Linked DNA regions of Homo sapiens. The protein of the gene in region 3 purifies or fractionates together with the protein of the main gene of each other region. This does not show direct contact. Each region holds a gene or a part of one and is shown on either strand. Other genes may lie near its edges.

Region 1 (3,500 bases), on a different chromosome or scaffold from region 3:
GTGAGCCGAGGCCATTGCACTCCACCTGAGCGGCAAGAGTGAGACTCTGTCTTCAAAAAAAAAAAAAAAAGGAAAAAAAAGAGTGTTATTCAAAAACCTCTTTAGGCCAGGCGCGGTGGCTCACACCTGTAATCCCAGCACTTTGGGAGGCTGAGGCAGGCAGATCACTTGAGGTCAGGAGTTCAAGACCACTCTGGCCAACATGGCGAAACCCCATCTCTACTAAAAATAAAAAAATTACCCAGTCATGGTGGCAGGCACCTGTAATCCCAGCTACTCGGGAGGCTGAGGCAGGAGAATTGCTTGAACCCAGGAGGCGGAGGTTGCGGTGAGCCGAGATCGGCGCCACTGCACTCCAGCCTGGGCGACAAGAGCGAAACTCCGTCTCAAAAAAAAAAACCAAAAAACAAAAAAAAAACTTTGATTAAAATGGGTAGTTCTCCAAAAAGGAATTCTGTGAGTTCAAGCTCTTTTTTTTAACACAAGTGTCTTTTTTGTTTTGATTTTCTCTTTTCTTTTTTTTTTAATATAAGATTCTGCCTTAGATTAACTTTGAAAATTACCTCCTCCTGATTGATTAGACTGTGTTAGGGACGTTATTTAGGCCACTCATTTATCTACTTCCCTCACCTGTCTCTCCCCATCTTTCCTTCTGTTGTTATTGTGTTTTTTAACATGAGGGTTTTGGGGGAAGCTAAAGAGAAGACTGCAAGATGAGTGTTTTCACAGGGCGAAGCCCCTGTGGTTGGCTGCTGGAAGGTTTCTCAAGGGCTTTTTATATCCAACAGACTGAAGGTCCAGAATTAAGTCCAGGAGTAATTGAACTTCAAGATAAGTTACAAAATGAGATAGAAAGGTGCATCTAATAGTTATCTGGGAAAGGTGTTAAACAAAGCCATGATTAATGGTAGTTAATAAGTTATGAAGGTACCAAAGAATTCTTATGAAGTAAGTTTTTTGAAATGTGTTCTGTGTCATCATTAAGCTAAGACTACTTGGCAGATGTCTTACAGTCTGGACTACGTAACCTTGACCAAGATTCCTCATCACCCTAGATTGCAGCATTGTGTCTTCAGGGATGAATAAACCACTTGAAAGTGAAAACAACATCATACCATGATAGGAGGCCAGGTGCAGTGGCTCACACCTGTAATCCCACCACTTTGGGAGGCTGAGACAGGAGAATCACTTGAGGCCAGGAGTGTGAGACCAGCCTGGGCAACAAAGTGAGACCCCCATCTCTATAAAAATAAATTTTTAAATTAGCCAGGCATGGTGGCATGCACTTGTAGTCCCAGCTACTTGGGAGGCTGAGGCAGGAAGATTGCTTAAACCCAGGAGTTCAAGGTTACAGTGAGCTGTGATCATGCCACTGCACTCCAGCCTGCACAGCAGAGTGAGACCCTGTCTCTAAAATAAAATGACAGGAGACATCACATTAGCCTAAAGGTTAACTTCTGGACACCTTGGCTGCTAAGTCAAAAAGTCCAGAAAGCCACCCTTGCTTTTCACTACTTTCAGAATAAACAGACCTCCGCTTCCTTTGTAGCTTAGTGGGTGATTGGATTCTAAACTGGCCACTCTATAAGAGAAGACAATTTGAACTAAAGCTGTTGCTAATAAATGGTTATATCTACTGCAATGAAGAGGAAACAAAAACATGGAGTCTGTTGAAAAGTGGCTTGATTCCCTCAGTCAACTAATTGATAAGTATTTGTTAAGCATTAACAATGGTTCTGGGTGCCATGAGCTATACTACAGAAATATAAATCTAATAAAAATATATCCTCTGCCTTATAAGTAGATTAAGACCAGTTAGAGAGAGGAAGCTTAAGGTAAGTTAAATAATAGTGACCAATGCAGGGTACTATCTAATTCATTACAAAATTATGTGGAATTTTTTTTTGTTTTTTGACGGAGTCTCACTCTGTCCCCCAGGCTGGAGTGCAGTGGCGTGATCTTCTACCTCACTGAGTTCAACTCAGTGAACTCACTGCAACCTCCGCCTCCTGAGTTCAAGCGATTCTCCTGCCTCAGCCTCCTGAGTAGTCAGGATTACAGGCATGCGCCACCACGCCTGGCTAATTTTTGTATTTTTAGTAGAGACAAGGTTTCACCATGTTGGTCAGGCTGATCTCGAACTCCTGACCTTGTGATCCGCCCGCCTCGGCCTCCCAAAGTGCTGGGATTACAGGTGTGAGCCACTATCTGGAATTTTTTAAGCACTAATTGGCTGGAGAATGTACTTTAGGAGTTTGGAAAGAACAAGAGGAGAATTAAGGCAATGCCATGCAAAGGGACACCCTTAAACAGGTATGGAAGGCAAGTAGACATGGCGCATTCGAGGGACTGGGTAGAGAGAGAAGCTGGGTGGGACCAGTGGTTCTGTCCTGGTGAGTAGTGGGAGTGCTGTTGGCCCTGCGAGGCCAGGTCATCGAAACTGGGCACAGCTGTTTAGGCCGTCCACTAAACCTTCACCATCCAGTACAGCAGCCAGTAGCCATGTATAAATACAGCCATTTAGTTACATGTGGCTGTTGAATGCATGAAGTGTGTCTCTTTCCAACTGATGTGCTATAAGTGCAAAATACACATTGTATTTCAAGACCAGTGCGAAAAAGAATGTAAAATTCCTCACTAATCACTTTAACTAATCACATGATGATGTGAAATTATTTTGGATATATTGGGTTAAATGAAATATGTTATTAAAATTAACTTGTTTTTACTTTTTAAAATGTGACTACTAGAAAACTTTGAATTACCGACGGGACTCACGTTACATTTCTCTTCAACAGTATTACGCTAGATTAAAATAAGTTGTCATGAGTTGTTGAACAAGGGGAAGGAACTGACAAGAAGTGATACCCGAACCTAGAAATGCCTCTGGGAGAGGCAGAGCAGAGTTGCTTCCCTGGATACATTGGCACCTTGTCAACAATTTCTTTTAAGGCAACACATTGACATGGCAGGAGTTCATGATTTAAAAAAAAATTTTTTTTAAAAAGAGAGCTGTGTGAAAGAAAGCAAGGCTGTTAAGGCTGTGAGTCACATAGAGGATTTAGCCATTGGGTGGTACCTTTCCTTTTATATAAACACCCACCAACAGTGCAGACCCTCTCCAGCCCCTCCCCCTCCCCACCCTCACTGCCATACACTGCCGTGCTTCTTCCCACTAGTGTGGCCGTCTGAATCTTCTCTTTAGCATCACTGACAAGTGGTGGCTTAACATCTGTGTGAATGCCTCCAATGATGAGGAACTCGGTACCTCACGAGGAAGTGTGTCCCATTCACTCAGTATTGTTACCAAAAATACTTTCTTCCCGTCCTTTCCTCCCTGACAATGCTTAAAAAGAGGGTTAGAGTTCCTGGATCCTTGATTCCAGGTAACAAGAGGGGCTTATCATTGTTTTTTAAAAACAAAAAGAGGCCGGGTGCAGTGGCTAACACCTGTAATCCCAGCACTTTGGGAGGCTGAGGAGGGTGATGTCACCTGAGGT
Region 2 (2,733 bases), on a different chromosome or scaffold from region 3:
GAGGTTCTGCTTGGCCTGACTGCCTGCAATGTGCCAGGAAAACCTCGAGGAACCCATGGCCCTGCAGGAACTGGACTCGAGCAACGGGGCCCTGCTGCCCTTCTACGACCCCGACACCAGTGTGGTCTACGTCTGCGGCAAGGTGGGGCTGGGCAGGGCTGGCGAGGGGCAGGGAAGAGGCGTGCCCAGGTGCTGAGCCCCCTCCCCACACAGGGTGACTCCAGCATCCGGTACTTTGAGATCACAGAGGAGCCTCCCTACATCCACTTCCTGAACACGTTCACCAGCAAGGAGCCGCAGCGGGGTATGGGCAGCATGCCCAAGCGGGGCCTGGAGGTCAGCAAGTGCGAGATCGCCCGGTAAGAGGGCTACCGAGGCCACTCGGGGATAGGGGCATCTAAGGTGAGAGGTCAGGTCATTGGAGGCTGCTTGGGAGCAGGAAACCTTGCGCCAGGGAGGCCCGGCGGGCCATGAGAACTGTCACGAGGCAGCCCGTGTGGGGGTCTAGCCACCTTAGGGGTCGGCCTGCGGAGGTCCTGGGGTGAGGACTGGAAGTGGAGGATGCCAGGAGAGCTGGCGGTGGGTGGGGGGGGCGGTGAGGGTTCCACCCGTGGCTCCTCCTTGCATCCCCAGGTTCTACAAACTGCATGAGCGCAAGTGTGAGCCCATCGTCATGACTGTGCCAAGAAAGGTGAGGCCGCCCGTCCCTCGGCTCACTTGGCCCTTTCTCCAGCAAGCGGGCCATGCAGTTGTGACCAGGGCGAGGCCTGTGAATGGAACATGACCTAGTATGGTTTGTGGGCAGTGAGCTGGACAGATGCCAGCTTGCCCTTGTACCAGCCAGCTGTTGGGCTGTGCCAGTCAGGGGGCAAGTGGGGATGAGACAGAGGGTGAGCAGGGGCCCTGCTCTGGATGAGCCACAGGAGAAGGACACCAGGCAGTCAGGGAGGGAGTGGCAGCCACACAGATCTTCCTGAAGGAGGCAGGACCCATAACACAGCTGGGGTGGCGCCATCCACTGGGGGCAGGCCAGGCGAAGGGCACAGTGGTGGGAATGGAGAGAGGAACAAGGAGTCTGGCTGCAGTGGGGAATCCCATGAAGAGGGGACCGGGCCACATGTGGCTTGGCCTCAGATGCCAAGAGCCTCGGACACGCTTCCATGATTCTCTGGCCAGCATTTGCCGACTGCTCTTTCAACATGCCAGGCACATTTTGGGGAGTGGAGCTGAGCTGATAGGGCCTGCTCCAGGAGCTCACAGTCCATGGGCCCCAGAATCCCATAAAGCCACATAGTGGCCCCTGTGCCTTGCAGGGGAAGGTGATGACAGGGGCCTTGCTCAGAAGGGTGGGAAAGCTTCCGAGGGAGCTGTTGATGGTGTCCAGAAAGGAAGTTAAAGGCCAGATTTGAGCTTTCCAGGCCGTGGGAGAATGGGTTAACAGAGTGCAAGCCTGGAGGCCAGGGGAGGGATGAGGGGACCCTGATGGGGCCTCCTAACTGATCCTGACCTCCCCGGCCCCCTGCCCAGTCGGACCTCTTCCAGGATGATCTGTACCCCGACACAGCCGGGCCCGAGGCAGCCCTGGAGGCTGAGGAGTGGGTGAGCGGGCGGGATGCCGACCCGATCCTCATCTCACTGCGGGAGGCCTACGTGCCCAGCAAGCAGCGGGACCTGAAGATCAGCCGGCGCAACGTGTTGTCTGACAGCCGGCCCGCCATGGCCCCGGGCTCCTCCCACCTAGGGGCCCCCGCCTCCACCACCACTGCTGCTGATGCCACCCCCAGCGGCAGCCTGGCCAGAGCCGGGGTATGCACGCGCAGGCAGGGGTGGTGCTGGGAGCCCCAGGTGTGGCCCTGGCCTGCTGTGTGGGCTTCAGCCATTCGCTGTCCCTCTCTGGGGTAGTGGTGGGTTTGGGAGGGCTATGGCTTAGCAGCCCCTGACCACCGCCCCCTACCCCTGCTTCATGTCCCCACAGGAGGCTGGGAAGCTGGAGGAGGTGATGCAGGAGCTGCGGGCCCTGAGGGCGCTGGTCAAGGAGCAGGGCGACCGCATCTGCCGCCTGGAGGAGCAGCTGGGCCGCATGGAGAACGGGGATGCGTAGGGCCACAGCCACACGCCACCTTCATCTCCTCCGCCGCCCCCTTCCCACTCAGCTTCTGCCAGCGGGTCGCACCGGGCTAGCTGGCTGCCCAGAGCCTCTGAGGCAGCGCAGGGGTCAGTTCCCACCCCCACCCGTCCCAGGCCCAGGCCGAAGCCAGCGCCCAGCTTTCCTCACTGTTCCTGTGGAGGATGTCTACGCCCAGGCGAGCTCCTCGACCTCTGAGGGACCATCTCCCCGACCACTGCCCAGCCCTCTGCTCCCTCCCCAGAGGAGGCGGGAGGGTGGGCTCTATATTTTCATTCCAAATAAAATTCTCTTTCTAAAAGCCAGGCTGACCTGCTGCTGCAAGGGTGGGGCTGAGAAGTCTGGAAACCTGGAGACAGAGGATGTCACAGGAGTCACACATGTGCAGAAGGTCTGGGGGCAGTGAGCAGCCCCACAGGCATTGCTCCCCTGGATTGTCAGGCAGGGAAACTGAGGCAGAAGACCTGAGAACACATGCAAGGCTGCATCCAGCTTCAAGTTGGTGCTGCTTCTTCCTTGGAGGACAGGCCCGGCAGCCCAGCCTCCTCCAGAGAGACTGGGGAGGGTCTGGTGTGGACCAGGGGTCCTGCAGCAGGGAGGGGCAGGTG
Region 3 (3,500 bases):
ACAAATAGGTCATCTTAGGCACTTCAAAACTCCTTAAATGGATCTAAAAATATTTGTCCTCTAATATTTTGGTGTCTCTTCAGCCAAAAACAAAAATTGCTTAAATTTGGTCCCATAAGAATTATAGTCATATTTCAGTTTGCAATGTGCCCTAATTCTAGGGCTTTCCTGGAATGAAGGATGCAGTTATCTTTGAGACCGGCTTTCATAGCCCACCCCCTTCCATGATGAGGAGGCAGGTGACAGGGAGGAACAGCCACCACGGGAGGGTGTGCGTTCTCCCAAGGGAGTTTTCTTCCTGCACACCTTCCTCATCTTCTTTAGACACTCAGGAAGTTGATGGGCTGAGCACTCCTGGCTTAAGCATTTGAAAAAGCAGCCGAGGAGTTTCCGCCTGTAAATAGTATCTGTAAAACCGTGAGCGGCTGGGAAGCCCACATCTCAGGCCACGGGGTCTGCGTCTCCCCTCTTGAGGCGACGCTGAACAAAAGTCCCCAGGGCCGCCAGGGGGATGCACATGGTGGAGGAGGCCACAAGCAGCCCGATGACAGCCAGTGCATAGGCCGGGTAATCTTTGGTCACGAGCTGGCCCTGAAAGGAGAGACTGAGTGTCAGCAGAGAGCACCTGCTGAGCACTGCCCCTGGGCCTCAGGGCCCATCCGTGATGGGGAGGTGATGTGACGTGGGCAGAGAGCATGTGGGGCCGGTGTCCTCACTCCTGGGGCCACGGGCTCTGCAATTCACTAGCAAATGTGCCAGGAGCCTAACTGCCCTCACCTTCTTTTTCTTCCATAAACTAGGAATAATAGTAACTACTTGAACCAGTGGGTGTAGAGCTATTGTTTGGAGCTACCCATAATGAATAACCATGGTAATAATCAAGCACCTTATGTCTAAGGCAACTTTCAGGGAACCTAAACTGTAGGCGACTACTCTTAGCCTGGAATGGGACTTTCCCGTGAAGGTAGCAACGTTCTCTGTCAGTGCTGTCTGCTGCGGTAGGCGCGGAGGAGAGCGCTGCTCAGGAGGCAGGAGCTGGCGCCTTTGCAGCGGGAGTTTTTCTCAGCTTCCGGGGGACAGGTGGATGGGGAAGCTCTGGAGGAGTGCCTTCCTCTCGCCCCACTGAAGCACATACCTAAAAGCTCAAAGCCCAGCTCCTCCGTGCTGGACTATTTCTAAAATACCTCAGTGATATTTCCATGTCGTGACAAATAACCTACCCACACCATGGAAATAGTCCCCTGGTTTCGGAAAATGAATGGCCCATGCTTTTCAGTGGCCATGGGGGCCCAGCGCCAGCCCTACGGAGACAGTAGATACCTGGGAGGCGTCCCAGGCTTGATACTTCAGGGTCCCCGTGAGGATGTAGTCGCTCAGGTAGAAGACAAAGAGGCTGACAATCAGCAGTGGGCTTACGCCAGCCCACATCACCTTCCAGTACCAGCTCACAGCTCGGCCGGTCATGGCCTTAAGGTCACTTTCAAATCTATTTGGAAAACAGGGAGAGAAAGTCTGGATTAACCAGGCTGCGGAGGTCAGGGCGTCCAGCTTGCCTGTCCCTATTCACAAAGGAACATTCTGTTCTAGGTGGTAAAGGATGTCTGAGCTTGGCCACTGGGCTCCTCTGTGACACCTTCTTGAGAGACGAGTGCTGCGGTGGGGAGGGGAGAAGGGCTGAGGCTGCCCAGAAGGGATGACGGAGCAAGCAACCCGCAGAGAGTGGACATCAGAAGACGCCTTCCTAATGCCAGCCTTCAGATGAAGGCTGCTGGCATAGCCCAGAGGGCAGCCTCCAGGAATGGTGGGCACAGGCAGCAGGGGATGGACATTTGTCAGGCTGGTCATCAATGACAGGGACTTCTTGGGCGGCTTTGCCCACCCCCCTACCCAGCCCGCCCCTGTCAATCAGTGACTCCCTTTCCCAGTAGAAACACCACGGAGCAGAATCACTTGGTCCATTGAAACCAGAGCAGGTTTTCTGGGACAGAGGAAGAGCCAACCTCGGACTGAAGGACCGTAGCCCTGGCCTGCTGGAGCTGGTCTAGAGTGGCCAGGGCAGTGAGTCCCAAAGGCGTTGCCCACAGCCACCATCACCACCTCCATCATGCCTGTAGCTCTCTTTTCCCTCTTCTTTACTTTTAAACCTACGGTTAGCAGCAGCACAACAGCAGCCAGTTTCTCATCGACTTGACAAACTAAGTACGTGTGTTTTTGAATACACGTACACAGTATAAAAAGTATCTTTGGCATTTTGGGAGATGTTGGCCCAACGAAACTCCCCATTTCACACAGGAGGAACCAAGGCCCAGGGCTGCGATGCCTTCTTCCTTAGGGCTTGGTAAAGACCAGGCCCAGAACCTGGGTTGGCCTCCTGCCTCCAGCCCAGAGCCTTTAAACCTGCTCCCTACAGCGGAAGAGGCAGCCTTGGCGGGAGGGGCTGGGGTGGTGTGGGTGTGACGTCACCAGCTGCAGCCACAGCCCCTCCCTCCCTGGGACCTGCTGCATGTCCTGGGTGTCCATGCGAGGCTGTGTGGCGACCACCACCTGCCCTTTGCTGCTGCTGACGTAGTTGGACTCTAGGCTGCAGGCCATGAAGGCTCATGTATGTGACACGAAAACCTGGGGCTTTCAAAATCAGACAGGTGAAAAAGTGTTGGGGGTCCTCTTGTCCCTTCACACCCCCATAACCCCCCCCCCTTTCCTGGATGGAGAAAGTTGGGAAGAGCTGGCTGCAGAAAAGCCCCAGGACACTGTTGCTGGGTGGTCACTAGATGGCGGTGTCACCTGAGCAAGCCGAAGCACTCCCCTCCTGCCACTTACATGGTCAGTCCACCTACGACATCTCCAAGGCACGTTTGTTTCTGCCTCTGTCTCCCTTCACCAGCCCCTTTTTGATGGACTTGTGCCCCTCACCCATCTAGTGACCTCCAGCGGGCCCTAGGTTCTGTTCCTCTCTCCCAACCTTCTCTTTTTATCCTGAAACACTCACCCTCTCAGTGACCAATCTCTTTCTCCCTCTAGACTGGCATTTCCTAGGTGACCAGGGATTTTCCCAATTTTAGTACTGAAAGTTCCACGTCCCAGAAAACCCCTCAATCCTGGGGAAACAGGGAGAGTTGGTCCCCTTAACACTAGTGTCCTCAAAATGTTAGTAGCTAAGGGTGGGAGTCGGGTGAGAGGAGGGTGAAAAGGCATTCCTTGACCAAGTAAGTCTGGAAATGCTGCAATTCTAACCCTCTCTTTGGGATCCACAACTGTCTTTAAGATTCTGAGAAGTCCTACGGGAAAGACATCAATTTGGCTTTGTTTAACTTATGTCCTGATGGATCATGGGAGATCCCTCAGCATGGCACGGGACCCTGGCCTTTCCGGGGACACAGCAGGGATTGCTGCTTCAGGGATGCCTGCCTCCCAGAGTGTTGTCAATGTCTCCCTCCCCACCCTGAACCAGCACAGAGGATCAAAAAGACTGGGGAAGAGGGCAGAAAACAACGTGGCAC
Region 4 (3,500 bases), on a different chromosome or scaffold from region 3:
AGCATAAGCCTGCTGGGTTCATCCAATACTAAAATTATATAATTCTTTGAAAGATATTATTTTTGAAAATCAAAACAACAAAGTGATTATCTAGCTTACTTATGTGATTCTCACAATGAGTTACCCTATTATTGCTATAAGAAACTTCAATAAGTCTTACTTATATTTGTACATATCCTATTACGTAATTTTTCAGCCATATATCTCCTGCATGAAGTGAGCTACACCTGCAGCTCATTTTAGATTTCTAAATCACACTGATTTCTTACCAATGAATTAAGAGATTGACAGTTTAGGTAGATAATTCGCTACAAGAAGATAATGAGCAGTTACAAAAGTATGTCATATTTTTCGAAACCCTAATATTGTTCATATTGAAAGACTTTACAATGATTGAAAAAGAAAGAAACATCAAAAATAACACAAAGTTTCTCAAAATAAAAGAAAAATTAAATTTTCTGGCAGATTAGGCCCACAGATTTAATTTAGATAAATTCATTAATTTTAACTTTAATAAAAATAAAACTAAGACATTTAAAAACATTTAGAAAGTAGATGTCCAACATTTTTCTAATATTTAACAATATTCAAGAGAAAAATTATGAAGAAAAATTCAAGTGAAGCTAAAATTGTTTACAGTGTAGAAAATAACATGATATAACATGATAATCTGGTTGATATCAGTAAGAATTACAGTATTATTTGTATAGTGATTGATTATTTTCAAAGCTCTTTGCTATGTCAAGAGATTCCTTAGTCCATAAAACCACTGTAAGATGTAGGTAAGGCATATTATCCCTATGATTGTGTTCAAGAAAATAAGTTTCAAAATAAGTGACTTGAGAAAGTTGATACACCTAGTAAATTATAATACTAGAACCATAATTCAGACACTTAACTCCAAACTCATGGTTCTCCATCTCCCACGACCACCATAGGTTTCCTGAACTAGAGACCCATTTTCCCTACAATGTCTGGCCTGTAAACTTGTGTGATTCTGAGATGAGGAACTTTGCAACAAATTAGGTTCAAAAATCTGATACTGTGGTCAAGAAACGGTAGATATAATTAAAACCTTTTTTCTCCTGAGATATCAAAATATCCTAAGGACAAAATTATTTTGTAGGGTGATAACAATCATAATTCATATTTACCCAATTTATGAAGTATGCCTGGGTAAATTTCACAACTTCTAATGTAACCAATAAGCTGATAGGAATGAGATTGTTGAAAAGGATGATGAAGGTCAAGAAATTCAGTCCAAAATTACTAGCGCCACCATCTGTTGGGAGAGGCAGGAAGAACGTCATTTACAGTTTTATATTTTATTTGCATTGACCCCAAATTAGCATAATACAAGTTTTCCATACTACGCAGCTTATTTGATAATTTGGGAGGAACACTTTGCTGATAATCTATCCTAATTCTCAAGTACATCCTTCAAGATAGAATTGCATTGTGTTCAATATGTTGTTAATCCAGGTAAGAGCTGTATAAAAGTACTAAGACAGTGAAAGGACTGTCAAATATTGCAAACCCTCTTCCAAACACAAAGTTTAGAGACATCAGGGATAGCACTGAGGGTTTATAAATATAAAATCTCAATTGGGTAGAATCACTTTTATATAAATTCTTAAGAGTATTTCCAATTTAAAGCATACTTTAAAAGCAAACAAGACAGCAGCAGCAAAAACAATCCAAACTATATGAGTAATATTCAGTCCTAGGTAAATTATTCTCCTAGGTACATTATACTCTTCTTCCTCAAAATGAAAATAAAACTGCTATACCAGATACAATTATAAAGTATACAAAGAAACAGACTGATGGTAGTAACAGTTCTGATACTGAAATAATAAATCAGTAACTATAAAAACAACTTGGAATTGCTGCAAAGATAAATCAATATAATAAAAAAAATTTAAAAATACCAGTTTTTGCTATGTGATTGTACTAGAATTTGCTTTCACACTTTTGGAAGTTAAGTCTTTATTGGCTAAGTACTCATGAAATGAAAATGTAAACTCATTTGACAGAAATATCCAGGGGTGGTACATTAATATCACAATAATAAAAGGATAAATGCTCTAAAGGAAAACTATTTACTAGCACCTTCTCTAAGATAACATTTAATATAGGACTTACCACATTACTGAGTTCAAATGAAAATACATTGGGTTTAAACATTTTTAAACCATATAAACCACTTTTTGGTACTTTTATTTAAATAAAATATAAACAAAGTATATTTTATTTAAGATAAAATATATTTAAATATTTATATTATTTAAATATATTTAAAATATTTTATATATTTATAAATACATACAATATATATTTAAATATATATGTTTTGTTATATCCACACATGGTCAATCTACTTTCTTTACCATATAGTTAACCACCTATGTTAAAAATATTTTTAAGGAATAGTTTTCGTTGATATATATAATAAATGACTATACTTAGTGAACATTTTATACCACTATAGAGTGCTCATTATGTTTTTAAGGATTCTGAAATTTTAGGATTCCCAAATTTTACTTACACTTGCTAGAAATCTCACTGAAAAATAAAGATCAAATGTCCAGCTATCTTGGCAACAAGGTCTTTTTAGAAACAATACGAAATAAAGTAAATCAAGATCAATTGTGAAACAAATACATGTCTTAATCTAAAAAAGTGCAGTAAGCACTTTATTGCTTACAGTTTAGATTGAGATACCAGTCTTTTCCAGAATGCCTTCGATTCCAAATGGCTGAGCCCACAGAACAGACAAGAGACATGGCAATTAAGATACAAAATAAAATCAAAATTTGTACATTTGTAATCCGTTCCACATTTGAGAGCTTAAGTGGTGGACTTGTTGAATTCTGTAAAAAGAAACAAGATGAGTAATAAAAAATGTACACCAATGATTTAGCAATCTATACTTAGTATTCTGTTGAGGATGACAAAGTCACAACTCAGTATCTAGATGTGGGTGGATACGTGAAAATTATGTGAAACCCATGACAAATGTAATAAGGTGCCAATGGTTAACCACCTTTTTTTCAAGGCCACTACACCACCCAGGCCTTTTTCTAGGAAGTAAACTATAAGAAAGAAGAGAACGAAATTACATTCCCTTTGCAAAAATAGCTTTTGCATTGTGGCAGGTAAGATGAATAATGCATTACTTGGCTATGTAAGCAAACAGGGTAGTCTAGAAACATTTAGTGTTTCCGTTCAGGAAGACAGGCAGACAAGGCAGCCCATGCTCCCGCAAACAGGCACCTGGAAATTTGAACATAGGAAGGCAACATTTAAAGGATCTCCGGCTTTCAAATTTCTGGTGGCATTTAGCAATTGTTTTACTGAACGCAGCAACAATTTAAGTAGTCCTGGCTATAAAGAATAACAGAGGCAAGTTGCCTCAGTTGTATTTGATGATTCAAATGGTTATGTAGACCTGTGCTAACCAAAAAATCCATAGAACAGAAAATTAAATGTCAGAATGA

The links.
Region 1: the proteins of SLC6A20 (region 3) and CNNM1 purify together in Homo sapiens (affinity purification with mass spectrometry; one large-scale study listed by BioGRID and IntAct). This does not show direct contact.
Region 2: the proteins of SLC6A20 (region 3) and CORO1B purify together in Homo sapiens (affinity purification with mass spectrometry; one large-scale study listed by BioGRID and IntAct). This does not show direct contact.
Region 4: the proteins of SLC6A20 (region 3) and ATP8A1 purify together in Homo sapiens (affinity purification with mass spectrometry; 2 studies listed by BioGRID and IntAct, with this or other methods). This does not show direct contact.

What each region holds. Positions count from the first base shown.
Region 1 is NC_000010.11:99,381,356-99,384,855, forward strand, and holds part of CNNM1 (metal transporter CNNM1), read left to right. Parts: intron 1-3,500. UniProt on the Homo sapiens protein: Probable metal transporter.
Region 2 is NC_000011.10:67,437,744-67,440,476, reverse strand, and holds part of CORO1B (coronin-1B), read left to right. Parts: intron 1-37; coding exon 38-142; intron 143-213; coding exon 214-359; intron 360-633; coding exon 634-691; intron 692-1,527; coding exon 1,528-1,806; intron 1,807-1,975; coding exon 1,976-2,101; 3' UTR 2,102-2,733. UniProt on the Homo sapiens protein: Regulates leading edge dynamics and cell motility in fibroblasts. May be involved in cytokinesis and signal transduction.
Region 3 is NC_000003.12:45,758,537-45,762,036, forward strand, and holds part of SLC6A20 (sodium- and chloride-dependent transporter XTRP3), read right to left. Parts: intron 1,487-3,500; coding exon 1,321-1,486; intron 592-1,320; coding exon 442-591; 3' UTR 1-441. UniProt on the Homo sapiens protein: Mediates the Na(+)- and Cl(-)-dependent uptake of imino acids such as L-proline, N-methyl-L-proline and pipecolate as well as N-methylated amino acids.
Region 4 is NC_000004.12:42,577,106-42,580,605, forward strand, and holds part of ATP8A1 (phospholipid-transporting ATPase IA), read right to left. Parts: intron 2,874-3,500; coding exon 2,708-2,873; intron 1,283-2,707; coding exon 1,155-1,282; intron 1-1,154. UniProt on the Homo sapiens protein: Catalytic component of a P4-ATPase flippase complex which catalyzes the hydrolysis of ATP coupled to the transport of aminophospholipids from the outer to the inner leaflet of various membranes and ensures the maintenance of asymmetric distribution of phospholipids.